6 separate regions of the Homo sapiens genome follow, and all the other regions are linked to region 1. Evidence: fine-mapped expression QTL. A gene starts in region 1. Each other region holds a variant in brackets. All regions are shown on one strand. Distances are from middle to middle.

Region 1 (5,205 bases):
TGTGCTGCTGTACATTTTGAAGAATCAAATGCTACTAATAAAACCATTTTCCTTATCCTTTTCTCACCCAGCCTAACATCACTTCTGAGAAAATAACCTAAAAATTTTTATCAAGATGGCATTCCAAATGGGTTTCCGACATTTACGCTTTTCCCTCAGAGCAAACAGATAGGAGACCAAAGGCATTATAAACCCATTATGGGAGTTTAAAGAAGAGAACAAGAGGATAAGCAGGTCATTAGAAAGTCAGTTGATTTCAGATATTAAAAACTGACTTTTGTTGCTGGTGACTTCATGCATCTGCACACTATATACTGCTTATCAGATCTGTTCAAATTTAAAAATTTTTAATTTCCATTTAAAATGTCACTGTCATCTAATCCATGATGAAGTCTTTTAAGAAGCAAAGTCCAAGAAAATATTCAAGAATTGTCTTATGCATAAACAATCTTGGAAATCAGACATTCCCTCTCTCTTCATCTCTCGAGTCTCCAAAAGTCTAAAACTCTGCAGAACCCAAGGCATGTTTTAGTCTTCCATTCCACCTTGCTTTTAAAATTTTACTGCCAAAACAAACAAACCAAAAAAAAAAAACTTTAAAATAAATGATTTCCCATAGGATACTGAACAAACCTACTAAACTCAAACCGAAAGAAGTCAGGATACACAAACTCTAGATTCCGCCGTGACTGGGCATTAAAGAAAATGTCTTTATTTTTAACTGGAACCATGCAGGGGAAAAAACACCACCTTGGCACCCGTGAGTCCCCAGCCAGGGCATAGTGCCACGCAGCCACAGGATGGCAGGTGGAAAGCAGGACAGCCCACCCTTTGGGCAGGTCACCTTCTGAACGGCTTTCGATTCAAACAGTGAATGGGAAGAACCGAGCCTGGATTCTGGATTAAAGAACAAAGAGAAAAAACTCCAGATGTGATCACTCCAGGACTACAGTGGACAGATCCGTCAGTGTGCACTGGGGGCAACAGAATGAAAGGGGCTGTCTTTCAACAGGGAATAATCCATCTAATTCCAAGTGCCTGGACTATAAGCATTCCTGGGCAAGCAGAGTCTGGCTGCAGATTATGCTATGCTAAGGACAATTTGTGACAAAAGGCACGAGAGCTGTAGAAAGATTTCAAAATGGACAAAACCAGGACAGAGGCAGCTTGATAAAGTTCACCCTGGGTGAGGTGGCAGTTGGTTCTGAAAGGTGGAAGCAGGCCATGACAGCTGAGCATTCCTTCCCAAAGACCATCTCCGAGGCACGAAGCCTCTCTAAACCTTACACTTCATCAGACAAAAGCTCCTCCAGGCGCCCAGGCAGCGGCTGAAGAGGGGCTGTCCACACCCACTCGGTGCACAGCTTTCCAAACCTGCCCACTCGTTTTGGAAGCGAGCTTTTAATTAAACACCACCTCCCCGGATCTGGATCTGTTGAGGCAAACTGGGGCTGGGCCAGAGCCAAAGAGAAGCTCCCTAAATACACATTAAAAAAATAATTTCCCCCACCGCTCCCAATTCCCACCTCCAGCCAGCTCGCGCGGCTGGTTTTATTTCCTCTGGATGAATAACACGGGGCCCTGGTCTATCTCTAGGCACCAGAAAATCCACATCCGAGGATCAGGTTATCCCCAGTCCCACCCTTTGCAGGAAAAAACCAGGGTGTTGTTCCCCGCCCCCACGCGCGCGCGCGCACACACACATGCACGCGCGCACACACACACCATCTTCACAACCCTTCCAAGAGAAAACCTAGAGTGTGTGTCCGTTTGGGTCTGGGAGGGCAGGATACAGTTATTTCGGGGGCCCCAATCTTGCCTTTAGGCTCAGCTGGGAGAAGGCGGGGCCCCTGCAAGGCTGCCCGGGAACTTCGGCCCCGCGCCCCGCGGGAGGGCTAAGAGAGGGCACGCACACCTTTACCAGCTTCGGAACGGCCCAATTAATAACTAATTTGCTCAGATACCCCACTCCAAGTAGACCTGACAGCCAAGGAGGGACTGGCTTTCCCTCTCAGTCTCCTAGGCTAGGGGACTCCTTCCTGCGAGCGGGCAGAGCCCCCACTTCCTCCCCACCACCGCGCCAGGCGCCCCCACCCCGTGCCCGGAGGAATCAGGTGTCCTCCCGGGCATCCAGCCCCCGCGGGTCCCAGACACTTACTTCAGGGACAGACAATGGGAAAACTTGCAGCCAGTGCCTTGAGCCCCCGAGGGAAAGAAATGGTGCCGCCCCCTGGGACAATGAGCGGGGGAGATGGCGTGGGACAGCAGACACCCCCCAGAGAAGCCACCCGCCCAGTGACCCCGCAGAGCCCGGAGCAGCGCCCCGGGTGAGCAGGTGACACTCCGGCCGGGAGCTCCCGCAGGTGGCCGGTGGCCACACTGCAGGGAAGGGCCGGGTGCCCGGCCCGGGGTGGAGGCGAAGCGCGGCGGCGAGGTCAGAGCGCGGCGGCCGGCGCCGCAGCCGCACCCCCGGCGTCCTACCTTCATGTCGCTGATGATGGTCTGGAAGAGGCCTCCGAGCGCGCTGCATTCCTTCTCAATCACAGCCTCCATTTTCCCGGCTCCGGCAGGGCGAGGGCACACACGCGGGGCCGCTGGACTGCGCGCGGGGCCGGGGCTCGCTCACCCCAGAAGGAATTTCACCTTCCGAGAGACCCACCTCGGACTCGCAGCCTCTTCTGCAGCGAGGACGGGGTGCACCAGACCGACTGTTCTCTGCCCAAAATAATAACAGTAATTTAAAAAGCCAAACCGCTCTGTAGGGTATTCGCCTACAAGCAGCGCTCGGCTCCTGGCCTTAAAAATGCCGGGAGAAGACTGACAATCAGGCCACCACTGGTGCCCACTACGGAAACGGCAAAGCCCATCTTGATGCAGAGAAAATCGCCCGCTGACCCGGGGCCAGCGCCATTGAAAAACGCAAGATTTTCCAATTTAATAAATTTTTCTGCAATTAAAAAAAAATCGCCCAACAGCAGAGCGGGTCAGCTCGCGGCGTCCGGATCTGTTGCTCGCAGCTGCGGCCGCCGCCTCCTTTTCACTCCTGCGCGCCCGGCCCCGGCGCTCGCTCTGGCTGGGCTCCCGGGGACGTTCGGAGGGGCGCACGCGCGCTCGCGGCCGTGCCCGCCAAGCGGAGGCGCGCTCTCGCGGCCGTGCGGCCGCCGCACGCGGGCGGGGCTGGGAGCGCGCGCCCGAGAGGCGCGTGGGGCACCCGCCGCAAAGAGGAGCCTGCTGGTCTGCTGGCGGGCAGGCGGCGCTGGGCCGGAGCCTCTCCCTCCGGTGCGCACAGCGCACCCTCTCCTCCCCCGGCCGCCCGTCGCAGCGCGGAGAGGGCGTGTCGGCACCCTGCCTGGCGAGCGCCCACCCCTACAATGGCTGCGAGCGCGCGGGACGGAGGGTGCACCGCCGCTCCCCGGGGACTTGCACGGGTGGCGCGCCTAGCCCAGAGCCCGCTTGTAGTGAGCGCTCAGTAGGGCGGGAAAGCTGCTGCCGCTACTGCGGCCTTCTGAGAAGACGCCCATTCTCTGATGTCAGGACTGCATCGCCGAGTCCTGATTGCAAATAGCGAAATATATAATTAAGGAGAGTTCGGGGGCGTATCCTGCAATGGGATGCCGAGTTCGATAAAGTTGCAGGATGCTGGGAAAGTGGATTGATTTGCTGTTGCTAAATGAATGGAAACAGCGTTAGAGCTTCTGTCCACGATCCATCAGTCTATCGAGATTGCTGATTGCCTATGACTTGGACGGTTGATGGTTTTCAGGCCCACTGAGAGCAGCCAGCGTTGGTATAACCGCAGGGAGCCCTCCTGGGAGGTTGAACCTGCAGAGCGCAAATGTGCCCAGGTTGATTTGGGGCCTAGTGGTCCATTTTCACAGCTCCACTGCCTATCTGCATAACCAGGAGCCCTCATTCAGATGAACGCCAAATGGGCCAGAGGGAGGAGAATCAAATGAGCAACTTTTAAAAGATATTAAGACATAGGCACCTAACTCCGGACAGTTCCTTTAACCCTTGAGCTAACCATTTGAAGCACAAAACATAACAAAAGAAAAGACTGGGGGGAGTGGGGCCAAAAGAAACCAAGTGCAAAATTCTGTACACTTGTGTCAGATTCACTCCGTAATGGGAAAAGGTCTGGCTTTGAAAACTTTATGGATCAAAGGGATGCATGGAGTTACACAGCACAGCTGCAGAAGATAATGTTCCCCTGGATCACTCTGCCCAACTCTTAACTGCAACCCACCTTCCCCATCCGTCTCCCCGAAATCACCCGGAAGGGTGTTACCTTCAGGAAGTAACTGATCTCTTGATCACCCCTGCTGGATCCTGTCCCCAAGGGCGTTCGAATGCATCCGACTCATCTTCACCTTGCCAATAACGGGTGCTTGACACATCGTTTGCTGCCAATCATTATTGTGATTTTAATACTATTGGTATTCTAACTATCAAGATGACTGCTTGTAGAGCCAGATTGCCTGGATTCAAACTCCAGTTCACAACCTACTAACTGTATGCCTTTAGGTATGTTACTTAACCTTTCTGGGCCTCAGTTTCCTCATCCATCTGTAAATGGGGATAATGATGGCTTCTACCTGATAGGGCTGTTCTGAACATTACATGAGCTGATCGATGAAAGCACTTCAAGTGGTACCTGGCATCTCGTAAGTAATCATTCGATAAATCTTATCAACAGAAGAAGCAGGGATGAGGCCAAGGCTCAGGTCCAGCCCTGGCCCCATTTCACTTCTGTAACATTGGTGTGCTGTCCCAGGCACATTGCTGAGGGTCTACTGTGTGCATTCTGGGCATTTTATACGTATTATGTCTACTTGAAGGAAATTATCATTCTGGTCCTTGTTGCACTGTTGGAAGGAATCCAACCCTGGTTTTCTGACTTCCATGCCCCAGGTCTCTCTTTTACCCAGCCTCCTGAACTCCTGGGATAAGGGGCCTTAGCCCAGTGGACACTTGGTCTAGCTTTCCTGCCACATGCTTAAATTTCAATGCCCCAAATACCCCAACTTTAGCAATGTTTGCCAAAGCATACCTCTCTTGTGGCCTTTTTCCCTGGGCCTGACCACCAGGCCCTTGTCTCTCATGAGAACTCCTTGAAAGGGAGGCTGGAAAAGTGTTCCCAGATGCAGGAAAGTGGGAGTGACACCTGGCAATTTTTTTTTTTTTTTTTTTTTTTTGAGACAGGGC
Region 2 (5,205 bases), 59 kb after region 1:
CACAAACTCAGCTCACTGTAACTTCTGCCTTCCAGGCTCAAATGATCCTCCCACCTCAGCTTCCCAAGTAGCTGAGACTATAGGTGCACACCATTATATCTTCCTTTTTTTTGTAGAGATGAAGTCTCACTATGTTGCCCAGGGTGGTCTCAAACTCCTGGGCTCAAGCAATCCTCCTGCCTTGGCCTCCTAAAATGTTGGGATTACAGGCATGAGCCATTGTGTCTGGCCCTTATTCATGCTTTCTAGCTATTTTTCTGTACCTAGTAACCATCTCCACTTCCCGCTAGCATTTCCCCCTCTACCCTTCTCAGCCTCTGGTAGCCACCCTTCTAGTCTCTATCTCCATGAGTTCAAATGTTATAATTGTTAGCTCTCGCAAACAAGTGAGAATATGTGAAGTTTGTCTTTCTGTGCCTGACTTATCCCCTTAATAACTTCCAGTTCCATCCATGTTGTTGCAAATTACAGGATCTCGTTAGTTTCTACATCTTAAAATGGAGATCTGAATATCCTCTTTACAGGTTGTTCTGAAGTATTTTAGAGATAAAACACTTAACACTCCTAGGACAGTACCTCTTATGTGGAACCTCCTTTCCCCTTGCTGTGTGTTTCCATGTGGAGGGACATCGATGCATGTAACACTCCTGGCTCCTTTCTGGTCCTGTGCTCAGGATTCCGCAAGGAGGAATTACCTCCTTGGCAAATTTGGGAGTAGGAAATGGGCATAGGTACACCTGCCTCCTATCTACGTTTCCTTTGGAATTCAGCTGCCACCAGAAGCACACATTCTGCCCGGCTCCTCCATACGTTATGTGTTTCTGGGGAGGCACACTACATGGGAAGGTCAGCATTTTTCCACTACTGCCCAGTACCAGGTGCAAGTCAGGCTGATTCTGGTCAGCAGAAGCCTGTTGTTGCCTTAAACCTCACCTGAGCTCTCCAATGCTGTCTCTCCCATTTTGTTCTCCACCTGCCAGACTCCTCTCTTATTTTAAATGGTTTGGAACAGGGTGGGGACTACAAGAAGGTGGTGATGGGTATCCTTTAGAAACCTGCTCTAATCTCAACATGTTCCACATCAGGCTTTCAATAAATAGGAACTGTCATTTGCACCAAAAGTAAACTTCTTGTATTTGTAGTGCTGACTCTGCCCCTTCTATGTCCTCTCTTAGGCAACTCCCTCAGCGCTCCCCACCCCGAGCTGATGTTCTTTCCCACCACTCCCAAGACACTTCCTAGCAGTGTTGACCGGAGCTCAGTCATCAGCAAGTGTCTTGCTGGGACACTTCCTTAAGCCCTGCCCCAGAAAAGTAAACTTCCCTTTCCAAGAAGCAAGATACATATTCCTTTTGATGGAAGTTTTTTATGGTAGGTTCTCAGCTCCTTGTTCTTTGTAGACGTAGACTCTCTGGTGCATCTATAAGGCGCTCTGCTTGCTTTCCTGTTAATATGAGAACATGGAGGTGATAGAAGGGTTACTTTTCAGAACTCAAAGGGGCTTCCCTGCTAATCTCCACTGTTTGTAAAAATGTGAGATTTAGCCAAAGCAGTAGTGCTAATAGTTAATTAACTAGCAGGAGAACCATGGAGCAGTGGGATTTAAATACCCATGTGCACACCTGCACTCCCCTTTTAAATTCCCCAAGATCCTGCATTTGGAAAATGACATGGAGGAAACCCATAGCAACCTTTATGTGGATTGAGGTATTATAAGTGATTTTGAACTTCTTCAGATATCTCGATGTTTTAAAATAAATTTTCTACGATGAGTATGTTTTAATTTTAAAATCAAAAGAAAAAGGGATTAAACATAAAACTCACCTGAAAAAACATATGATTTGGAGAGATGCAAAATAATTCCAGAGCCTTTGATAATGCTTATGGGGTACCTAGTATGTACGAGGCACTGTGCCATTTGCTGTGGAGAGGGCAAGGTGTGTAAAACACGGTCCTTGCCCTGAAAGGGATGAGGCAACATGAACAACTACCTCCTGAATTTGTAAGTTGCAGTGGTTGAGCTAGGGTGATCTGCAAGGATGCGGGTGTGACTTATAGGTAGTGTCTGTTTAGCTCAACAAATTTTTACGGAGGATCTATGTGGCAGGTCCTGTCTTAGATGTTGAGATATGTTCATCCATAGAAACAGAAAGAAAATTGGTGGTTACCAGGAGCTGGGGGGAGGGGGAAATGGAGACCTGACTGCTTAACGGGTACGGAGGTTATTTGGGTCGGGGGTGATGGAAGAGGTGGTGGTTGCACAACACTGTGAATGTACTAAACGCCACTGAATTGAACACTTTGCAATGGTTAATTTGATGTGTTAGAAGGGCGGAAACTTGATCCTATGTGAACCCCCCTAGTTATCATCTGTCTCCTGAATGACCCACGTGTCCTGAATGTCAGTCCATATTCACTGTTTGTGCTCCTTTGCTCCTGTTCACTCTGAACTTACTGTAATCTGGCTTCTTTGTCCCCATCACTTCCCTGAAGCCACTACTAACTACATAATTATCAAATCCAATGACCATTTTTAAATTCTTTTAATAGTCCTTATCGGACTAATACACCCAAGTACGCTTTGGGCATCTCCACTTACATGTCCAATTCCAGAGGCCTCACTTTTTCATCTGTAAAATAAAAAAGGACCCATCTCATAGGGCTGTTGTGAGGATTGAGCACAGTGGTATGCTGGTCAGTGTTTAACAACCAGCTCTGAGGACAGAGGACTCCTGATTCATAGTATTTGCTGATTTCTGTGGTGCAAATTCTCCCACTAAGGCAGATTTCAAGGAACCAATGTAACACTATTGCATGTGGAATTAGATATGGGAACCATTATATCTTGCTTGCACCGTGCAGATACAGTGGACATTATCTGAGCCTGGATAACAGTGGAGGGTAGTAAAATAATTAGGAACTGCCGGGCGCAGTGGCTCATGCCTGTAATCCCAGCACTTTGGGAGGCTCAGGCAGGCGGATCACCTGAGGTCAGGAGTTCAAGACCAGCCTGACCAACATGGAGAAACCCCATCTCTACTAAAAATACAAAATTAGCTGGGTGTGGTGACGCACACCTGTAATCCCAGCTACTCAGGAGGCAGGAGAATCACTTGAACCC[C/G]GGAGGCGGAGAATGCGGTGAGCTGAGATCGTGCCATTGCACTCCAGCCTGGTCAACAAGAGCGAAATTCTGTCTCAAAAAAAAATAATAATAATAATTAGGAAGTGATGAGTTTCTATTATATTTGTTTATAATCCAACGTGTTTAATTGTGAGTATATATAATTTGATTTTTAATAATTGCTGTGTTTAGTGACTGGCTTGCAAAATTCTTGAAAATTTAATAATCGGCTCTTGCAAGCCAGTCCAAGCTGGCTCCAGGTACTGTTGAATGAACTACAGCTTGTACCCGGCTTAAGAGAGAACTCAGCATATGTAAAGTGCTCTCTAAATGGTAGCCAATGTGATTCTTGTCATTTGTTTTATTACACAATTTGTGACTGTTTTAGAAAAGTCAGGAAAGACACATTTTAAATGCACCTTTGTATGATTTTTAGGGTCGCATTATTTAACCGAGGAACATGGACTTGAGGGATGCCCGTGCAACATGGTTTACTCATAAAATTACTGTGTTTGGCATAAATTCAGAACTGAGAGCTGGAAAAGAACTAAAAAACTTTGAGTTAAAAAGTATAAAAATTTCAACTTACTGTAGTATTGCAGGTGAGCGCAGGAAGTTGGAGGCAGCTCTTCACCAGGGGCTGGAGAAGTAACAGGAAGGATCACAGTGGGTGGTGCTGTGCAGTGGTCAGAAACAGCAACCTGGAGTGCTGTCATGCACTGCAAAATGACGTGCTGGGTCAACAACGGACCCGTGTGCCACGGTGGTCCCATTAGATTACGATGGAGCTGAAAAAGTCCACCTAGTGACGTAGCCACAGTACATAGTGCAAGACATTACTTGTGCGTAGTGATGCTGCTGTAAACAAACCTACTGTGCTGCCAGTGGTATACAACAGAGCAATACAATCATGTGCAGTACAGAATACTTGATCATGATAGTAAACAACTATGTTACTGGTTCGTGTATTTACTATACTTATTATTGTTATTTTAGAGAGCACTCCTTCTTCTTATACAAAAAAGGTAATGGTAAAACATCTTCAGACAGGTTCTTCAGGAGGTGTCCTGAAGAAGGTGTTGTTATTATAAATGACAGCTCCATGCGTGTTATTGTCCCTGAAGCCCTTCCAGTGGGACAAGTCGTGGGGGCGGAAGACAGTGATATAGATGGTTCTGACCCCACGTAGGTCTAGGCTAACATGTGTGTTTGTCTCTTAGTCTTTAACAAAAAGTTTTAAAAAGTAAAACAATTCTTAGAAGTAGGGAAAATCTTATAAAATAAAAATATAAAGAAAGGAAATATTTTTGTACAGCTGTTCAATGTGTTTGTGTTTTAAGCTAAGTGTTAATACAAGAGTCAAAAAGTCTACAGTAGTGGACAGTAATGTCCTAGACCTTCACATTCATTCACCACTCACTTGCTGACTCACCCAGAGCAGCTTCCAGTCTTGCCTGCTCCATTCATGGTAAGTGCCCTACGTAGGTGTACCATTTTTTGTTATTTTTATACTGTATTTTTACTGTAGCTTTTCTGTGGTTAGATACACAATAGTTACCATTGTGTTACAATTGTCTATGTTATTCAGTACAGTAAACTGCTGTACAGATTTGTAACCTGGGACCAATAGGCTAGACTATATAGCCTAGGTGTATAGTAGGCTAGACAATCTAGGTTTGTGTAAGTACACACTATGGTGTTCACACAAGGATGAAATTGCCTAATAATGCATTTCTCAGAGCAGATCCCCGTTGTTAAGCAACACTTGACTATATGTATATTCCTGTATTTGTCTGTTCTCACACAGCTAATAAAGACATACCCGAGACTGGGTAATGTATAAAGAAAAGAGGTTTAATGGACTCACAGTTCCACATGGCTGGGGAGGGCTCACAATCACGGTGGAAGGAAAGGGAAAGCAAGACATGCCTTTCATGGTGGCAGGCAAGAGGGTGTGTGCATGGAAACTCCCCTTTATAAAACTACCAGATCTCCTGAGACTTATTCACTATCCCAAGAACAGCATGGGAAAAACCCGCCCCCATGATTCAATTACCTCCCACCAGGTACCTCCCACAACACGT
Region 3 (5,205 bases), 120 kb after region 1:
ACAGTAGCTATGTTTTATAAAGTCACTACAAGCACTGAATTAGTGAATACTGAACCATTGATCCTACAGTAAATATAGGTTGAGGTTCCTGTGAGCCTCTAGTTCCATCAATCAATACGTAGCCTTGTTTTATGTGTGTTCTTGTTTAAAGACACCTTACTTAATACACATTGTTGATCCATTGACATTGAATTCAATACCAATAGCAATACAAGATGCTTGAGTGAATATGACCTAATACTCACATTTCCTCTGTGAGGCACAACACAGCCTTCTCATGCTCATGAATGCTAGGCAGCACTTAAGCACTATGCTTGGGGCCATTTGAAACAAGCAGTGACACCATCAACAAAAATCTTGAAAATGTGGGCCAGGCACAGTGGCTCATGCCTGTAATCCCCCAGCACTTTGGGAGGCTGAGGTGGGTGGATCCCTTGAGGTCAGGAGTTTGAGACCAGCCTGGCCAACATGGTGAAACCCCATCTCTACTAAAAACACAAAAATCAGCCAGATGTGGTGGCACATCCCTGTGGTCCCAACTATTCGGGAGGCTGAGATGAGAGAATCTCTTGAACCCGGCAGGCGGAGGCTGCAGTGAGCTGAAAAAAAAAATTTTCTATATGTTTTTCTCTTCTTTGTTTCTTTCTTTCTTTTTTTTTTAACTCTCTCTCTCTGTTGCCCAGGCTGGAGTGCAATGTGTGATCTCGGCACACTGTGACCTCCATCTCCCAGGTTCAAATGATTCTCCTGCCTCAGCCTCCCCAGTAGCTGGGACTACAGGTGCATGCCACCACACCAGGCTAATTTTTATATTTTTAGTAGAGATGGGTTTTCATCATGTTGGTCAGGCTGGTCTCAAACTTCTGATCTTGTGATCCACCTGCCTTGGCCTCCCAAAGTGCTGGGATTACAGGCATGAGCCACCATGCCCAGCCTAAATGTTTTTCACCAAATTGTTTTATAAATGTTTGGCACTAAACTGACCATGAAAAGGACACTTGTTTGAGAGCATGAGAGCAGAAACAGGAAGGCAAAGTGTCTCCTTGTTGGATCTCAGCTGGGGATGGGTGCATTGGGTGACTCAAATCTTTTGCAGCTCTGCATGTGTCTGCAAATGACCTTGAGGTTTAAGTGATGATTTTGGAGTTATAAATACATTTTAGGGATTAGACAAATTCACACATACAGAACCTGCAAATAATGAGGATAGACTGTGCCCACATACACGCACGTTCAAATTATATGAAATGCTGTGGAGGAAAATAGCAGCATATTTTCAAAGACAAGAGAGAACCCCTTCCTTAGGTGGCACGGTCAGGGAGGCCACAAAAACGGTGGCATTTCAAGTCAAGGCTTAAGGGATAGAGAGGAACCAGGAGCACAGGGGAGAGGTTTACCAGCAGAAGGGGCAGCTCGTACAGTCCCAGTGGGAGGAAGGACAGCTGCACTTGCGAGGTGAAGTGGGAGTGTGAAGAACAAGACGGGAGAACAAGTATGGAATGCAAGAGGCAAGTCAGGCAAGGGCCTGAGTGGGTCAGGGAGAGCCTGGGAAGATCCTGGGTTTGGATTCCTTTCAAGGTGCAACGGGAAGCTTTGGCGTGTGTTGGGCAGGAGAGTGAAATGTCCTAGGTAGAGTTAAGGTTTTCTCTAGCTGCCCCATGGATTTGCCAGGGCAGGGTCTGTTTCCCTCAGCTGGCTCATCTGAGAAATAAATGTGTGATACTCTCAAATCCTTCTTTGGATTTAGAGAGAGGTATAAGTAAATGCCAAGTCCCATGTTACGGTGTGGTAATACTTGTTTGGTCCACTCATAATGGCATTTATTTTTTAAATCAGATCTACTGGGACTATAATGCTTCAAACCACGGGAGTAAGCCTTGCATGTGACCACTTCAGCTTCCACAGCAGGAAAAGGGAGGGAGATATTTTTAGAAGGGAGACCTCTCAGTGCCCCCTAAACCAGGCCGGAGGCACTGCCTGGCCCCAGAGGACCGTTGGCCTTGCCTATCAGCTTTCATCGTGGAGGAGGCGTGGGTGGACCGAGGTACCACAAGTTGCCAGGAATGCCTGACCAGAAACTGCTCTTGGGTGGGTCCCAGAGCTGCCTCCCCTTCACTTGACCCTAGGGCTGCTGGCTTCCTGGCCTTGTGAAATCTTCTAGAGGCAGGAAGAAGCCTGAGCGCTCCCTGACGCCACTTGAGTTTGACTTCATGGGTTTGCCGTGTGCCCCTGAACAAACCAGTTATCCTCTCTATGCCTTATTTCGGTATGCCCATCTAACACTAATTACCACCCCTCCCTGACTGCCCCCAAACCTTACCAGAAGAAATGGCATGAAGTTACGGAGACACTTTGAACTCATTGGCAAATTGTGCACTGTGAGGGGAAAGCACTGTGGCGGCCATTTTCTTTTCTTCCTTGAGAAAGTCCCTTGCTAATCATTAAGACTGGCTGAGTAA[G/C]CTTGTTCCTTTACATTTGGTGAGTAAGAAAGCCCCTCATGCTACCTCATCATATGTTCTTCCTCTTTTTCATGGCTTATCAACACTCCCTTCTGTAGGACATGCTGAGGAATTAGTATGAGTCAAAAGGAAGAATGACAAATAGGTGGTATTTCTGGTCTGGAGTTTGGAGGGCAAGTTCAGTCCAAAAGTTAGCTGCTTCAACCATCATGAAAGGTACAGAAACTCTAGGATGAATACACTTAGTATTTTTTATTATTTATTTATTTATTTTTTAGACGGAGTCTCACTCTGTCTGTCCCCCAGGCTGGAGTGCAGTAGTGCAATCTCGGCTCACTGCAACCCCCACCTCCCGGGTTGAAGCAATTCTCCTGCTTCAGCCTCTCAAGTAGCTGAGATTACAGTACACTTTGTACTTTAATATGCAAACTGCCTGCCTGCTCCAGAGAAGCAGCCTTTGTTCCTCAGTTCATCGCAACACTCAGCCTGTCAGTCAGGTTGTGGGATCCCTCCTATCCAGGAACTGTATGCTGTTGTCCCGGTTCTGACACTTTCCCTCTGAGTCCTTGGACACCTTACCTAACCTCTTGGAAGCTCCTGTCTGTGAAGGGTGTGCACAGAGAGCTTCGGTAGCCTGCGAAGCAGCCATTTTCACTTCCACGGAGCAGGTATTTTATTGCATTATTTCGAGCTCAAGGACTCCAGAATTAGATCCCCAAAATATGCCTGAGAAACATTTACTCCCCAGGAGCTCAAACTAAATAATGAAAACCATTGAAAACAACCAGGCAGCCCATGTCCTGAAGTCACCTTTTCCTGGGAGGTCCAGGAGAGTTTTTCCTACTTTCCCTGAGTTATCCTTCCCTTTCCTTCCCTTCCCTTTCTTCCCCAGAGGGCGATGCATGTTAATCAAGGAGCCTGCATTTGCGCAGGTATAGACAATTACACATTTACTGGGTCAGTTGCACCTGGGGGGGACGCCAATCTGTAAAGCAGAACCAAACCTCTTGCCTTCAGTCCTCAGAAGTTCTTCTGGTTAAAATCATCTAAAAAGTTGTTTCAAGTCTCCAGAACAGCTGAGATCAGCAAAAATAAATGAAGCTTCTTCTGTGTGGGTGCAGATGCTGGCCTGGGTGCTGGAATATGGAAATGAGGAAGATCCTGCCTGAGGATTTCATGACAGGTGAGGGGGAGAGAGGCCTGAGGAAGTTACCACCGGGGAAGGTGACAAGTGCAGTGATAGGATAAATACGAAGTGCAAAGAGAAGACAGACAAGAAGTTCAGCTAGCTAAGAAATGTGTTAATAACACCTTGATCAATCATTCCTCCACTTTTTTTTTCTTTTGAGAGTCTCATTCTGTCACCCCACCCAGAGTGCAGTGGCAGGAACACAACTCATTGCTACTTCAACTTTCTGGGCTCAAGCGATCCTCCTGCCTCAGCCTCCTGTGTAGCTGGGGCCACGTGTATTGCACCACCAAGCCTGGCTTATTTTTTAATTTCTTTTGTAAAGACAGGGTCTCACTATGTTGCCCAGACTGGTTTCAAACTCTTGGACTTAAGCAATCCTCTCATCTTTGCCTCCCAAAGTGCTGCGATTACCGACGTGAGCCACTGTGCCCAGCCTCACTTTAAAAAAAAAAAAAGGTTATGAAGCATCTCAACACAAGACCTCCTTTGCTCATCACAACCACCCAGTGAAGCAGGCAAGACAACAGAAACTCCCCACCTGTGATAGATGTGAGGCCTGAAGTCTCCCACATACCCACGGCAGATGCAACGCACAGCGGTGACCAATGGTAGGGATAACAAGTATTGCTTCCGCCCATTCAGTACTTCTTGCATGCCAGATCTGTGCTAAGTGCTAGATGAACACAGTCTCTTTTCATTCTCATAGCTCTTTAAAACAGGTATTGTTTTCTTTTAAAACAAATTGTTTTGTTAAATATAAATATCATGTACCTTATATATATATTATATATAAAAATACATGTAATTTACCATTTTAACCATTTCAAAATGTCCAGTTCAGGAGCATTAAGTACAGTCACATTGTTGTGCTACTGTCACTACACCATCCACAGAATTCTTCCTCTTTCCAAACTGAAATTCTACGCACTTTAAACAATAACGCCCTATTCCCCCCTCCCTCCAGTCTCTGGCACCCACCATTTTGCTTTCTGTCTTTGTGAAGTTGACCACTCCAGCTATATCATATAGTATTTGTCTTTTTGTGACTGCTTTATTTCAATTAGCATAATATCCTCAAGGTTCTTCTATGTTGTAGCATATACTGGAATTTCCTTGTGTGTGTGTGTATGAACCTCTATAAAGGATCCTTCCTTTTTAAGGTTGAACAATATTCCATGTATGTATATATCCAGTTTTGCTTATCTGTTCATCTGTCAATGAACACTTGGATTGTTGCCACATTTTAGTTATTGGGAATAATTTTGGCTATTGTGAATAATCTGTACACATGAGTGTACAGATATTTCTTTGATAAAATAGGTAAATAAAATTGCTTTATAAAGAAAAGCAATTTATTTCTCACAGTTCTGGAAGCTGGGAAGTCCAAGATCAAGGTGCTGGCATCTGGTGAGGGCCTTCTTGCTGCATTATTCCACAGTGGAAGGCAGAGGATTACAAGAGCGAGCAAGAGAGGACTGGCCTCACCTTTATAACAACTCACTCTTGCAATAACCCATTCCTTCTACAACAACAATATTAATCTCCTTTTTACAG
Region 4 (5,205 bases), 160 kb before region 1:
GAGCAGCACATATGGTTTAGTGAAGCACACAGCGGGGAAGAGGAGCTCCTTACAGACCAAGCCAAGCACCCCAGGTGGGACACGCACTCTCAAGCACTCTCAAACTATAGCCGTGGCTCTTGGCTCTGAGTGCGTTTAAAATTGAGTGTGTATCCAAGGAAGGCAGACAGAGGCCACAGTCCCCAGGATGGCTGAAAAATGCTAATGGGAGCGCTGAGCTGTGAGGAGAGGAACGCAGAGCTCTGACATGGGTTTCCCAGCAGGTGGGGCTGTGGGGCACCCAGCATTCTGTATGTAGAGCTACTTGCCAAGTTCAAGGCCGACACCAACCCAATGACACTAAGGGAGAGAGGACAGAGAGAGGATCACATACATTGATGATGCACATGAAGAGTGTTCAGATGCCCTGGCCAGCTCCTGCGTTCTGCTCCAGCTGGAACCACTGGGCTGGGCTGGGCCTAGCACCATTAAACCCAGCTGTAGTTGAAGAGATTCTGCCACACCTTCCCTTCCAGAATCTAAGTGCCAACAGAATTATGTGCAGAAGCTCTGATGATTCATTCTCATTCTCAACACAGATTGATAAAAGGAACCTGAGAGCGCCAAGGGATGGTATCGGAAGCGCTATTCAACCATAGAATCTCAGCCATTCAGGGAGAACCTGAGATGTGGGGGAGGAGGTGTCCCCATTGTGCAATGCCCTTTAATTATAGCATTTAATTATGCCAAGCTGGGCACTTACAGGGACGCCTGAGAGTGGTCAAACCTCTTTCAATCCATCTACTTACGTGAGAGCTCCCCAAATCGATGTGGTAATGCAACCATTACCACCATGGAGACAGGCTTCAAACCCACTTATAGCACCTCTCCCTTTAGGGGAACAATACATCTAAAGATGAGAAATTAAACCAGAGGTTTCTCAAGTCAGTGGGCAGGGGATTGTCTAAGCCAAGGTGCTTCTTTGGTTCTGGCCACTGACAGTGGTCAGGACACCAGGTGTGACAGCTGCTCCTGGAGCCAAGGGCACCCTTACCTGGTTGGGGGCCTCTGGCGGCATGGGGGATGGTGACTTGGACTGGAAGGCATCCTGGGATATGAATCCTGAGTCATGGGAGGACACGCTGGACAGCCTCACAGGAGCCTGCTGGGCCAGGTTGGAGCTGCGGTAGCGGTAATGTGAGCTGGGGGAATGCGAGTGGGAGCCGCTGGACCGGGAGTCACTGCTGTTGACACTGTTCAGGCTGCTGTGGAGGACAAGCAGGGGTGAGGGGTGGGCACGGAAGGTAAAGAAAGGGGAGCAGTGGTAAGAGGAAGGAGGAAGGAGGGGAACAGATGAGGCAGAAGAGAGAGAAGCACAACATAATGCAATTAGCTCTCTGCCCTGGAGATGCAGTGCAAACCACAAAACACGTTTTCAAAACACCAAATCATGAAGGTAGTCAACAAAATGCTTTTCCAGGTGACCCAGGGGGAAATACAGCTGCCAGGACTCAGGTCTCCGATGGTAACCATGTGGCATTCTTACGAGGGAGGTCTGGGGTTCTAAAACGTCAAGTGCGCCCAACTCTGCTGCTTCGCCTACCACCAAAACGAGGGGAGCTGATGTCAGTAGCAAGAAAAGGGACAGGGTTAATCTGCCTGCAGGAACCATGAGCCTGCAGCAAAAGTCCACTGGGGCTTCAGCATGACTGGAATGTTCTTGGATGGACCATCTGGGTCCACATGACCAAGGCCAACCCAGCTAAGCACTGCCGATGGATTTGCTGAGGTGATTTCATCCTAGCTGAGTCTGGTCAAGCCCGCTGTCAAGAACATCAGCAAATCAACTCACTATGTTGGTGTGCATATGTTTTACCTTTTAACAAAGTGATGCTTTAATTAATGTTTTTACTCTGACCCCAGCTGTTTCTGTGTTAAAATATCTGTGGGTCTGGCACAATAGCACACTTGGCAAGAGGCAGGCAGCTTTCAGCGACTAAGGGCAATCAATGCTCAGCTGTTTGCTCTTGAAATGGCACAGTAAACAGGATGTCAAATAATGACACACCCGCTCTGGATTTCTGTCTGCCTTCCATCTCCACTCAAAAGAAACATGCTCCTGGCCAGGTGCGGTGGCTTACGCCTGTAATCCCAACACTTCAGAAGGCCAAAGCGGGTGGATCACCTGAAGTCAGGAGTTCAAGACTAGCCTGGCCAATACGGTGAAACCCCGCCTCTGATAAAAATACAAAACTTAGCCAGGCATGGTGGCAGGCACCTATAATCGCAGCTACTTGGGAGGCCAAGGCAGGAGAATCACTTGAACCCAGGAGGCAGAAGTTGCAGCGAGCTGAGATTATGCCACTGCACTCCACCTGGACAACAGAACGAGACCCGATCTCAAAAAAAAAAAAAAAAAAAAAATGCTCCACACTCTGTATAGTAACTTAGATCATAAAAAGCAGAAAACAGACTCCCATGGTCCAAACAAACGGAGCTGAAATAAAAAGAGCAGTTGTAGAGGCAGCAGCAGGGATGAAGTAAATAACTAGGGCTGGGATAGGAAAAGTCATGGTTTCTGCTCCTAAGCCTGCAAGAGACTCTGGCTTGCAAAATCTGGCAGCTAATAAGGTACTCAAGGGCCGCGTGACTGTTCTACACTAGAATTACTTGGTGCAAATGTTCAGACAGACATAGGGGAGCGTGCTGGAGGAAATCGCTGCAGTGAGGAATAAATATCATGATTTTTGACTTTCCCCTCCAGTCAGCCAGAAGGCGGCAGTTGGGGACCGACAGTAAAGCTCACAGCAACTCCACCCCGGCAGCCTCAGAGTTGCAGATGTCAGTGCAACATGGTTTTCTACTCAAACTAAAATTATAAGGAAGAAAAAAACAGCCACGCAACTTTGTTTTACACTAATGAGAGATTTTTCTTGGCAACAATAAAAAGGTCTCTCTTTCACTCACACACACACACACACACACACACACAGTCGACAGAAGATAAGAAACAAACCAATATCTTCAGGGGGCAGAATGTCCAGGATGCAGCGTCTTAGGTCTGAACTTCCTGCTAAGTGTGTAGTGTACAAGCTCCGCAGTGAAAGGAAATAGGCATCAGCGTGCACCAAAACATCACCA[C/T]AGACAGATTGAGCAGATACATCCTGCCCTCTACTCTCAGTGCTAATACACAGGAAGTGGAAACTCATTTGGCTTTGAAAGTTAAATTAAAAGAGTAACAGGACTACTATACCAAGAGAGATAGATGGTACATCATGCTTCCATCTTTCAAGGAGAGGAAAAGAAACTTTCCTACTCGGCAAGCCAAGAACTGACTTCTAACAGAAAATTGCTAGACAACAGTTTTGCAGATGGCAGAACTATTCCAACAGATTTTGTTCCAATAGGGAACAGTACTAATTAATACAGGTGTGGTCGTGGTAGTGGTGGTAGTAGTAGCAGTGACTGACAGAGCAAGAACTCTATTTACTTTATGAAACCCTGAAACAAAAATATGGGGTGAAATGAGGGCATAAGCCATTGTTACTTCCTTCGTTTGTTCTGGCAACAGTGAGATCAGCCTGTGTAAAAATCAACCCAGGTTCACCATTTTTTAGGCCTTAGAAGGTTTTCACTCTGCTAAACAGGAAAATCAAATGTGATCTCATAGAATAGGAAAATCCCTACAACATACAAGTGAGAGAGAATAAGCTACATCCACAAGTCAAGGGCTAATGGGGTTTTCTTTCTGATCCAAAATTAATCCAGAGACTAAAGAGCAAGACCAAAATTATTACCATTCTTTCAGCTCATCATCCCATTTCCTGTTTGAGAATGAGCCATTCTAAGAGATAAGGACTGGCTCCATTGCTCACATTAGCATAAAGAAAAATGACCCGTCCTGAAAGCAAGAGTGGACCCCGGCTTCACTCACCTGCAGACACTGGACTTTCTGGACATGGTGGTGCTGGGGGAAGAGGGTGGCGTCTGATACGACCAGCTGTAATCAGAACCTTTCAAGTCCAGAATCACCTAAGGGGACAGAGCCAGCTGGGTGAATGAGGTGCTGAGAGGGGAAGCGTTAGCCATCAAAGCTTAACATCCACCAAAGCATCAAAACGCTGCCATCGTGGGGGTGGGAATGAAAGCAAAACATGTTAAAAAAATTTTTTTTAAATTGAAGAGCCACAGTACCAAATCCATCAATATCATAATCCTTTTACTGAGAAAGTAAAACTATAATTAATAGGGAGAAGGAAAGGAAGGGAAAAGGAAAATCATGAAATATCAGTCGAGAGAGGGAGAAATACAGTGACCAATTAATAATTTATAACAGCCATTTATACCCAAGGCTAGAATTTACAGGATTTTCCTCTTGTAATGCCATAAAGTTAATCATGGTTCCCAGACTTGTTGGTAGCGCATTTTAACCACTTGATATTCAGTGGTCATTTCTGCCCTATTTGACCAGCACTAGAAATTTTAAAGCCTGACAGAATCAAGAACAAGCCAATTCTTTCACCATTATTTCTATATCTGTCTCCGTTGCTTGACAAAGGACCACATGAGTATAAGGTCCACCTTTCATTCACATAAGAAGCACTCAGTAAATGTTTATTTGTCAAGTGAATGCATGCATGCTCTGGTCTAATAAATATAATTTGATAGAATAGAAAACATGAGCTCCCAAATTTGCCCTCTGAGCCAGCTCTCCAAGGAGACGAAAAGATTGTTACCAAGCACAAAAGCCAGCATGTGATTCATCAGTTCCCCCAAATATGTCTCTTCCCATAGTGTGCGTGTGATGTGAATTAAATGAATAAAGCATAAAAATGTCATCTTTTTCATAAGATGAGAGAGCTCTCCATGCATTGCTCAATTAGAATGGGAGAAATGGAGAATGGTTGACAGTGTCAATCAAAACACACCAGCGACGTGTTCTTAGGAGGGTTGACTTCTAGAGGGCAGATGAACACAGCAATTAAGTGCATGGGATCTGGAACCTGACCAACTTGGTTCAAATATCAGTTCCACTACCTGCTAGCTAGCTGAACCTGGCTAAGTGACTCCATCTCTCAGTGCCTCTGCATCATTCTCTATAAAACAAGCATAATCATGAAGATGAATGGAGGAAGTCAGGCTATGTAAAGAGCTTGGGACAGTGCCTGACACACAATAGGTTCTATGTAACAGCTCGCTGTGGTGATTTCATATATTACATCATGA
Region 5 (5,205 bases), 34 kb after region 1:
AGATACCTTACACAGGAGACGGCAAACTGAAATCTGAAATGGTGTCTATACTCCATCTCTTGGGAAATTGACCAGTATAATTTATTTTTATTTATTTATTTATTTTGAGACAGGGTCTCACACTGTCACCCAGGCTGGAGGGCAGTGGCATGATCTCGACTCACTGCAATCTCTGCCTGCTGGGGTCAAGCCATTCTCTTGCCTCAGCCTCCCGAGTAGCTGCGATTACAGGCACCTGCCACCATGCCCAGCTGATTTTTGTATTTTTAGTAGAGACGGGGTTTCACCATGTTGGCCAGGCTGATCTAGAACTCCTGACCTCAGGCGATCCACCGGCCTGGTCCTCTCAAAGTGCTGGGATTACAGGTGTGAGCCACCATGTCCAGCCAAGACCAGTATAATTTAGTTCTCCAGAAATAAATTACTTTGGAATGACCCCTGAAAACCAGTCTTCAAAGTCAAGGCTGGATTTGTGGAAATTCCCAACCCCGATGTCAGCACCAAAAAATGTAGCTGAGAATAGCCTGATTCCCCCAACCCCCTTCAACAATTCAAATTTTATCCTCTGCGTTTGGCAGAAGTTAAATAACAGTTTGCCATTGCAGAGCAAAAAGTTCACTATCAACCCATCTCTGCAACCCCTTGAAAGGTATAAACACCTGAACACTGGCAGTCCCACCTGGCCCATAATCACGGTAGTAGCACTTTGGCCTAGTAATAAACATCCAACTCTTAGCCTTTTTATTACACTGCTCTTTCAAAGAAGCATTTAGCTAATGTTATCAGAGAGAGGGGCCTGTTTCCCCTCAGAATGCCTCTGAGGAGTACCTTTTTATTGCCCAGGGGTGGAACATTCTCAGCTTCAGCTGTAAATCATAGAGTTGCCAACTTTTATTGAGCTCTTTGCAGGGACCAGGCCATGGGCTCAGGGCTCAGGGCTCAGGGCTCAGGTCTTTCCTGATTCTCTCATTTCATCCCCACAGTCACCCTATGAAGTAGGTGTTATTATTCTCATTTTACAGATAAGGAAACTGAGTCAGAGCTGTTAAGTAACTTGCCCAAGATTACATAACTAGTAAGTGGCAAAGCCAGGACTCGAACTCACACCCCAGGGTATCTGACTGCTAACCTGTTGTATTAGTCCATTCTCATGCAACTAATGAAGACATACTCGAGGCTGGGTAATGTATAAAGGAGAGAGGTTTAATTGACTTACAGTTCCACATGGCTGGGGAGGCCTCACAATCATGGTGGAAGGTGAAACGAACGTCTTACATGGCAGCAGGCAAGAGGGCATGTGTAGGGGAACTCCCCTTTATAAAACCATCAGATCTCTTGAGACTTATTCACTATCATGTGAACAGCATGGGAAGAACCCGCCTCCATGATTCTGTTACCTCCTACCTGGTCCCTCCCACAACACGTGGGGATTATACAATTCAAGGTGAGATTTGGGTGGGGACCCAGAGCCAAACCATATCACCCGTGTTGCTAACTCTCACACCATACTCCCTTAGCCTTGTGTGATGAGCTCTGGACTAGGTGCTGGGCACAAAGACCTGGGGACCGAGCCTCGTCTTTTTTGTGGGCGTTTATGCTTTTCTATGTTCACTGAGTGCTTACTGTGTGGTCAACACCATGCCCAACAGTTTTTATTGATTTATATGCATTTTCTAATTTAATCCTTAAAGCAAACCTATGAGGAAGTACTATTGCCCCTACTGTCTTTGTGAGAAGGTCAAGCTACTCACTCAAGGAGAAGGTAGGATTCCAAGTGCAAGTTTGCATGACTCTGAAGCTTGTTCTCACCCAGTGGACCACCCTTACTGGAATCTAGCAGTGTAGACAGAAATGCAGATTCCTGGGTCAAACGCTGGATCTACTGAATCACAGTCTCTCGCAGTGGGGCCAAGAAATCTGCTTTTCTGCCAAATATCCCAGATGGGCGCAGTGTGTGTTATGTTTAGAACTCACTTCTCTATCATGATGCTGGCAATGTAGACATTCCATGTTTTGAAAATTCATGGATTGTACGTTTCTGATTTATGTACTTTCCTTTATCAATCTTATATCTTAAAAAGTTTGCTTAAAAAGTCCCCTCCCATGTAGGACACAGTCTCTTCACTATGAACACTTTGCTTCTTTGCTAGTCTATCTCACACGTCATCACACTGTTAAATTTCCAACTGTAATTCGCATGGGACACCACGGCGCACTGGGCCTGAAAAACCAGGCTATGAGAATGTCCTGGAATCACCTCCTTCCTACCTTAACGCAATCACACAAAGGTTACCGGCAGTTCTCATTTTCTTTTCTCCAGATAATTCCTCCAAAATAGATTACCCAAGTGCCTCACTCTGAAAACTTCCATCGTGTTCTCTCAACCCTGAAACCCAAATCAGTACAAAACGGTCCCTTGGGGCCATCCCTCTTGACTAATTCTCAAAGTTTCCACCACCAAGTTGTGGGGTGGTACCGGGAACTTCTCCTTTTGGGCTTATTTGGCCCATGAATCACTCTTTGACTAACCTCGTCAGCTGTTGTTTTCCCCGCAACACTCGGTGAGTGTTTTTCCTCCTCTTCCACCTTCCTTGTCTTCTTTTGGAACCTCTGTAGAACCTTACAACAGAAATATCTCTTAATCTTCAACCTCTATTGATTCATCCACTCATTTATTCTTTCACTTAC[C/T]TATTTACAGACATTTATTAAGCATCCACATGTACCAGGAACTCTGCTAGGGGCAAGAATTTAGAAAATAAACAAGAATGTGGGCCCTTTCCTCAGGGAACACAGTGTTTCCAAGTCACTTTTGACAAATACTTCTGGAGCTGACTCTTTTAATAATAATGGTCTTGCTGTTGATGATATTTTTGAGCCTTTTCTTCATGGCAGAACCTCTAATAGTTATTTTAGATGTATTGCTTAATATTCTCAACAACTTCATGAGGTAGGTACCACTATTGTCTCCAAATAATACAGATGAGGGAATCGAGGCCCAGAGAAGTCGTATCACTTTCCCAAGATCACACAGTTCATAAGGGCTGAATTCTAGAGCTAATCTGGAGTCTGACCCCAGAGACAGGCCTTTTTAATTACCACAGGCTCTCTGAGCCCTACAAACCATCCAATGAGAAGTGTCAGAAGTGCAAGGAAAATAGACAAAAGAGAGAAGAAGAAAGATGTTAAACAAGACTCTGGTGAGAACATAATTTTACCCTGGTTGACTCTGGATATAAGGGCATCTGAAAAGCACATTGGCTATAAAAGTGTGTTTCCAACAGTCCTAGAGCCATCCTTTCTAAAAGATAACATGTTCCCCAAACCATAGAACCATAAAATCTCAGTGTTGGGCAGGATCTTGATGTGGTATAACCCAAATCCCACTACATGCTGAATCTCTTTACAATCTCATCATCAAATCTGAAACCTGTCAGCCCTTGGCTTCCATTCATCTGCGTAAGTTCTGAGTTGTGGGAAAGTAATGGCAAAAACTGCAATTACTTTTGCACCAACCTAATAGCTTGATAGTGGTAATCATTTCCCAATGTATATGTGGAATATGATGAGGTTTCTCTTCAAATAATCTAATCAATCTTTTATTCTTTAATTTATAATAACGCCCCCCCCCCCACCTTTTTTTCCTTTTTCTCCTTTTTTTCCTTTTTGCATTTGTTAGATGCCCAGGCACGCCACAGGACAGGCATTATCAGTACCAGCTCACGTTCCTTTCCTTATTTAAAAAGAAGACTAACTTTCTAGCTCATTACACACACCCCTTCCCCTTCCTCTCCACTTTCTTTTACGTGCCCACCTTACCTAAAAAAATTCAAACGTTTAGCCAACTGGGATTATTTTAAATTATACAGCCTGACCCCAGCCAATGGGGAAAGAGTGCAGGGGCAAGACTTGCCGTCAAAAATAAAGGCTCTCGTGCCCTTTGTTCAGGTGGGCTCTCATGGCGACTAGCCAAGGAGGCACCCCTCTGCCCAAAAATAAAATTGCTTTGCTAAAAATCCTTTGTTCAAGTGTTCAATTTCCTTAAAATTTTTTAGCGTTATTCCTAACACATACATATTTCAAAAATCACATTCTACAACTTGAATATATACAGTTTTTGCTGTTTAGATTTCAGTAAAGCTAGGAACAAATGTTATGCTCTTTGGGATTTCTCACGTTCTTTGATTCATATGTCTATACCTGAGTCAAATTCACTTGTTCATCAGTTAAATCACAAAATACTATGTCATGGATCTTCCACATCCTCAGAAATACCACAAGTGGCAGGGGCTTCAATTCACACAGGCCAACAGTTGTCTCCTTCAAGGATCTCAGGTGCAAATGTCTTTGGGGTCAGTCAAGTTACATGAAAGAATGAAGTAGGCAGGGGGTAAGAACCGTGATGAACCAAACAGCACGCCTTCTGGACAATGATTGCCATGTGGTACTATAGGCTCCGTATTGCCAGATCTTTCAATTTGTCAAGAGAAGCCAGAAATCTAATTTTTTTTTAAATGTAAACTTTTCTGATTTTTAAGTGTTGAAAACAAATTCCAATTTTTTTTTTTTTTTTGAGGTGAAGTCTTGCTTGGTTGCCCAGGCTGGAGTACAGTGGCGCAATCTCGGCTCACTGCAACCTCCCGGGTTCAAGCAATTCTCCTGCCTCAGCCTCCCAAGTACTTGGGATTACAGGTGCCTGCCACCATGCCCAGCTAATTTTTCAATTCCAAATTTTAAAATCTGGTGTAGGCCACCATGACGTGGGCCACATTGGATCCCCAGTTGGCCGGTGTGACCTCTCATCTGTGGCACTTGGCTGATGTGAAGCCTTGGGAAGGGACAGTTGGAGGAAAACATGCAGAAGTGAGAATTGATGCTGAGGTGGCAAGCAAGAAGCAGAGTTGGGATTGACAGTTAGGAGAAGTATACTGGAAGGAAGAAAGCCAGAGGGAAGAAGGGAGTTTCCGGGATCCTTGAATTATATGGAATCATTACACAGAATTGTTCAGAGACAGTCTGAATTACGTTCCAAGTTTGCAGAAGTCTCAGAGATAGAAGGAGACCACCACCAGGAAAGAATTTAGATTCCCCCTTTTTAACTTCTTTGATTACATGGCAATATTGCTCATTTGTGCCATGTATAATATAGTGTGTATATATAGATATGTATGCACACATGGTAGTGAACATATATGTATATAAATTCAA
Region 6 (5,205 bases), 73 kb after region 1:
ACATACAACCATATCTAGAACATGGGAAATGCTCAATAATTGCTCACTAGAGTGAATTACTGAAAAAAGGGAGTCTGAGGTCAGGTTTTCTAGAAGTAGAGCCTAATATGGGCACCTTTGCACAAGAAACTTATCAAAGAAGGGCTTTCAGAAGAAAGAGAGTGAGAGCAAGTCCTAAGGAAGGATGTGGTCTCAGTCAGAGGCCAGTCTCAGCCAGACCCCCAGGGGGCTCTGGGGTGGGGATTCTCCACAGGCTCGCTGCCTCCTTGAGGCCCCTCTGTTACTCATTGGCTCCAAGTGGTTGGGACGGACGGGAGTGTGTAACCTCCCAGGAGGATGTCTCCTGATGACTGAGGGCAATTCTCCAGAGAAAGGGGCAGCTGTGAGCATCATTCACAGCATTCAGGCATGGGTGCACCCATCTGCACAGGAGATCTGGATGGGGCACCAACAGCATGCATGACAAATAGAGACATACTTGGTGTGCATGAGTTATAACCAGACACTGCCAATGCCCCTTCCATTGGAAAGTTCTGTGATCTTAGGATGTCTATAGGAAACAAGTCCAAGAAGGAGCACAATTCTTTCATCTTGTGGGATTTTTATTAGACAACACAGAAGCTGGAAAGTTAATAGCCCGCATCTCTGAGTAGCCTGGGCCTTGGCATGTCTTCTCAAGCCTGAAGTGCCTGCTGGTGTGGCCTTAGCACCCTGGGGGCCCCCAAACAGCAGATTCCACCCTCCAGGTTCCCTCTTCTCTGGAAGAAAGATAGCCCTCTCACTCTCTTTCTCTCCCTGTCCCACAGGTGCCTCTCTCAGTGGTGGCCTGGCAGCCTCCACCAAAGAATGTCACTGGCCTGAGGCCCGGCCTCAGACAAAAGCCCTTTGGAGCTAAGCCTACATCCTCTGTCTGACAGGACCCTGCCCGCCTCCCTCACCACCAACTAGGGAGGGCAGCTAAATTCATCCTCCTCGAAAGGATGGATTCCACAGAGCAAGGCCGCCTCCCTACTCAGGAAGTAAAACCACTCCGAACCCTTGATCTCTGCCCTTGGCTCCTGGACAAATAACTGACTGTCCTCACACAGAGGGCCCCGTAGCCCCGAGAGCAGAGGCAGAGAGGCCTGCAGACACGTGTGCACTGGGGGCTGCAAGGAGGGAGCCCAATGCCAAAAACAAAACACAAAGCCCTGAGTCCCAAACAAATCTTCACACCCAACTCAACTCTGATCAGGGCTGGGAATGAAACTGACTCGAGTTTGAATTCCTGGCTCTGCTATTTACTAACAGTGCACCCCCACGCCAGTCATTCCCTGAAACTCAGTTTTCACAATTTTCAAATAGAGAGAATAGTATTTACTCTATAATTACATGTTTTGAGGGTTAAATGAGATAACATAAAATCTTGGTACAAAGGCTGGTACTTTTTCAGCAAACCAGTCTTCTAATACCATCCTATTCCTTTGAGCACCTAAAGCCCCTTGATGGGAGATCCAACATTTAACCTGCTTGGAATCTTGCAGATGTGTCCAAATGCCCTCCTTACTCAAGCTCACTGATGCTGTTCTTTCTTACCCTGCCTCCTCAGGCCAAGTCTCAACCTCTTTGTGATTCTACCTGTTCCTTCTGGAGCTCTGCATGGCTGGCTTCTGGAAGGCCATCAGCTGTGATCTCACCTGGACCCAAAACTACAGCTCCCACTCACTGCCCATCATATGAGCCACTGAAAGTCCTGGCGTGGTGTTGGAGGAGCTGTTTCCTGATTGCAGAGTATCTAGAATGGAAGGCCTGTCGTGATGGGATTTTGTTGGCAGGTTGTCTTCCAGATGGCTATGAAGACAATTTTGCTTTATGCTGCCCAATTCTGGTTGCTTCCTCTCCTAGGAAATGAGAGCCTTCATGGTGGACATGGCCTTAAAGACCAACACTGTTGTTTTATGGCTAAAAAGATGGACATACAGATCGGTGAAATGCCTACAAAACTAGAATGCTACCCAGGCCCAGAGGCAGCTGTCTGAACATAACCATGGAGAGGAGAGTTTCCCCTTCCTGGAGCACCCTCTTCCCTTCCCTTCCCAGCACCCTCCTTCCCTGCTTCTCCATCTGTTGTCACCTTTCCCCTCTGTACTGGATTGAACAGTGTGCCCCAAAAATTCATGTTCACCTGGAACCTCAGCATTTGACCTTATCTGGAAATAGGATCTCTGCAGATGTAACTCAGTTAACGTGAGGTCATACTGGATTAAGATGAACCATAATCCAGGCTGGGTGCAGTGGCTTATGCCTGTAATCCCAGCACTTTGGGAGGCTGAGGCGGGAGGATCACCTGAGGTTGGGAGTTTGAGACCAGCCTGACCAACATGGAGAAACCCCGTCTCTACTGAAAATACAAAATTAGCCGGGCATGGTGGTGCATGCTGGTAGTCCCAGCTACTTGGGAGGCTGAGGCAGGAGAATCACTTGAACTCGGGAGGCGGAGTTTGCGGTAAGCCAAAATCGCGCCATTGTGCTCCAGCCTGGGCAACAAGAGCAAAACTCCATCTCAAAAAAAAAAAAAAAGATGAACCATAATCCAATAACTGGCATCTTTACAAGAAGAGAGAAATTTAGACACAAACACACAGTGGAAAGTGGTCACATGAAGACAGAGGCAGAGATTAGAGTTCTACGCCACAAACCAAGGAATGCCATACATTGACATCAACCATTAAAGGCAAAGAAGAGACAAGGAAAAATTGTTCTCTAGAGCCTTTGGAGAGAGCATGGCCCTGCCGAAACCTTGATTCCAGACCCCAACCTCCAGAACAGTGAGAGAATACATTTCTGTCGTTTTAAGCCATTCAGTTAGTGGTGCTTTGTTACAACAGCCACAGGAAACCTGCACCCTCTTGTCTTGTGCTCTCCTCCATCCCTCCCTTGGTGGAAGAAGAATAGACTCCTAAGACACACGAATTTACACAAACACATTAGGATCAAGGGCCCACAGCTTCAGTATTTGCATTTTATAGGATGACTTCCACTAAAGGTAACGAAGTGGAAGCAGGACTGGAAATTCTCACAAATGGAGGCCTAGTTACAGCTCTGCAAATCA[C/T]CCTTACAAAAAAATGTATCATCACCTCCATTTGATAGATGCAAAAGCCAGGGCTCAAAGAGGCATGAGCAAAGGGGGCAGGGTTGTGTGGTGGCTAAGAGTGTAGCCTGTGGCCCCATGGTCAGCCTGTGTCCAGATCCTGGGTACTCTACTTCATAACTGGCCATATGAACTTAGGCAAGTCAATTTAACTTCTCTGGGCCTTGGTTGCCTCATCTGTAGAATGAGGATAATAATAATAAAATCTATCTCTAAGATAGATGGGAGGTAAAACCTATCTCTAAGATAGATGGGTACCATGGGTACCATGCTCACTACCTGAATGAAAGGATTAATGGTACCCCCAAACCTCAGTATCACACAATATACCATTATAACAAACCTGCACCTATACCCCCAAATCTAAAATAAAAACTGAAAAGAAGTTTTAAAAAAGTAAAAACAGAAAAAAATGGAGCTATGTGTATTACTGGAAGGTTCTGGTAATTTACCTATTGTGGCTCAGCTACACATCTCTTTGCTCTTTCAACCCTGCAATACTTCTGTAACCACCCCCCTGTATTAAATTCCTTCTGGCTGAAATACCTAGTGTAGTTTCTATAGTCCTGCCTGGAGCCTGACCCATCCATGGGGTACTCAACCTGGACCAGCAAGTCAGCAAAGGCATCTCTGAAGAAATATATTTAAGAGCTCAGACCTGAAGGATCAGTAAGAGTTATTCAGGGGATATAACTCTGTCTGTTTGGAAGACAGGAAATAAAGGAACTTATAAATACAGTCTCTGAAGCAGAAACAGAGAAGTCCTATATGGCAAAAGTAAGTGCTCTAGAAGAATGGAGGGGGGTAAGTAAGGGTCAATCATGCAGGGCCTTGGAAAGACACAAAGCATTAAAGAATACTAGGTTGGAGAATGACACAAATAACTGTATTATAATAAGGATAAGAGGCAGTTATCTTCCCAAGTCTATAAAATCTTTCTGGGGTTGAACTGTTCTCATCGTATGTGGCAGTTCACTCCACAGCTGGAATTCTTTCTATCAGAAGGAGTGTAAACCCAGAGACAGTTATCGAACATGGGGTTTTTGTGTAAATAACAATAACAAAAAAAGGTGCTTTTTCAAGGTAGATGTAACCCCACTGCATGGTTTGGCTAAAGGAAAGCATCTTTCTAAAAAGAATAAATTATGCTTCCTTCTGGCAAAAGCAGCCCAAATGTCTCTGTGCAATGCATAAAATGCACAGCCACAGTGGCAGCCTTTGGAGTCAGGCAGACTCGAATTTAAATGTCATCTCTACTTGCCATCTTGAGCATTCACCCTAACGTCTTCAAGTTTCTATTGCCTCATCTGAAAATTGAGGCCTAACAATGTGTGTCTTATACAGCTCTGGCAAGAGTTAAATTAGGTGATACTTGCAAAACATCCAGTTCAGTTCCTGGTGCCTAATAGGTTTTTAAAAGTGATCACTTTAATTGCCAGCAAGTCTTGTTATTTTGAGTCAAAATCAACCTCCTTGTAACTTCCACTTCAGTAGAGTTGCCCTCAAATTACTTGATTTCCTCTTCCACATGAGAATATTTCTGCCATTTGAAAATAGCTCTCATACCCTTTCTTTGGGATGATTTTATGCTCTTGTTGGTGCCCGGATCAATTCTTAAGCTGTCCTCCCCATCCTGCCCACCAAAGCTCAAGCCTCAACTTTTCTCCTAGCCAGGTCCTCTTTTTGATTCACCAACAATCAAACTAATTGGCTCTCTGGGTTTGTTACATTGACTACACTGGTTTCAAATGTTAATATTTATTATCTTATCTCTTTGATGGTTTTCTTGACATGGCAGGTGCTTCAGATGGAAGTTCGATGTGGCTGTCAGGTTTGAAAGAGCATGTGTTTCCAAGAGTTGGCTTGAACAGGGACACAGAAAGCAAATTTCCATGTTGTGTCATATTCTGTCATCCTGTGATTACTCACCAGGGCCTCTTCCCTTCTCCACCTCCTCTGGAACCACATAACACATGAAGAGAGAAATGGACAGTGACTTAGATCATAAACAGCATTCTCTAGCTCCTGGCTGGGCTTAGCAATGGAAGTTAGTTGCCAACCATTTGTTGAATTTG

Direction of the effects. Alleles are on the strand shown, and positions count from the first base shown. SD is a standard deviation of normalised expression in the study named. Not every link is listed here.
For the expression in thyroid of the gene that starts at base 3,071 in region 1, C is the high allele of the variant in region 3 and G is the other (small effect, 0.27 SD a copy in GTEx).

Evidence for each region. PIP is the estimated chance that this variant, and not a neighbour inherited with it, causes the effect.
Region 2: its variant is fine-mapped to the expression of MTSS1 in whole blood (INTERVAL, PIP 0.92).
Region 3: its variant is fine-mapped to the expression of MTSS1 in thyroid (GTEx, PIP 0.90).
Region 4: its variant is fine-mapped to the expression of MTSS1 in whole blood (TOPMed, PIP above 0.99). The same link has a PIP of 0.9 or more in CD4 T cells, T cells, Th1/17 cells, activated CD8 T cells, activated naive CD4 T cells and blood mononuclear cells.
Region 5: its variant is fine-mapped to the expression of MTSS1 in pancreas (GTEx, PIP above 0.99).
Region 6: its variant is fine-mapped to the expression of MTSS1 in monocytes (TOPMed, PIP 0.99).

What each region holds. Positions count from the first base shown.
Region 1 is chr8:124,725,403-124,730,607 of GRCh38, forward strand. It overlaps MTSS1 (MTSS I-BAR domain containing 1), which reads right to left and starts at 3,071. Exons shown (of 14, transcript NM_014751.6): 1 at 2,482-3,071. The coding sequence starts at 2,553. LOC105375741 (a long non-coding RNA gene) reads left to right here and starts at 3,137. Exons shown (of 3, transcript XR_002956670.2): 1 at 3,137-4,664.
Region 2 is chr8:124,784,079-124,789,283 of GRCh38, forward strand. No RefSeq gene overlaps it. Among named protein-coding and RNA genes, the nearest start is that of MIR4662A, 35 kb to the right of the region's middle. The variant C/G (reference allele first, on the strand shown) is at 3,122.
Region 3 is chr8:124,845,695-124,850,899 of GRCh38, forward strand. All of the region lies in intron 1 of LOC105375743 (a long non-coding RNA gene), which reads right to left. Among named protein-coding and RNA genes, the nearest start is that of MIR4662B, 26 kb to the left of the region's middle. RefSeq lists enhancers at 2,069-3,268, 2,413-2,707 and a silencer at 2,413-2,707. The variant G/C (reference allele first, on the strand shown) is at 2,460.
Region 4 is chr8:124,561,749-124,566,953 of GRCh38, forward strand. It overlaps MTSS1 (MTSS I-BAR domain containing 1), which reads right to left. Exons shown (of 14, transcript NM_014751.6): 9 at 3,914-4,011; 10 at 1,034-1,244. Among named protein-coding and RNA genes, the nearest start is that of NDUFB9, 25 kb to the left of the region's middle. RefSeq lists a silencer at 228-317. The variant C/T (reference allele first, on the strand shown) is at 3,121.
Region 5 is chr8:124,759,609-124,764,813 of GRCh38, forward strand. No RefSeq gene overlaps it. Among named protein-coding and RNA genes, the nearest start is that of MTSS1, 34 kb to the left of the region's middle. The variant C/T (reference allele first, on the strand shown) is at 2,689.
Region 6 is chr8:124,797,971-124,803,175 of GRCh38, forward strand. No RefSeq gene overlaps it. Among named protein-coding and RNA genes, the nearest start is that of MIR4662A, 21 kb to the right of the region's middle. RefSeq lists enhancers at 359-860, 861-1,360. The variant C/T (reference allele first, on the strand shown) is at 3,092.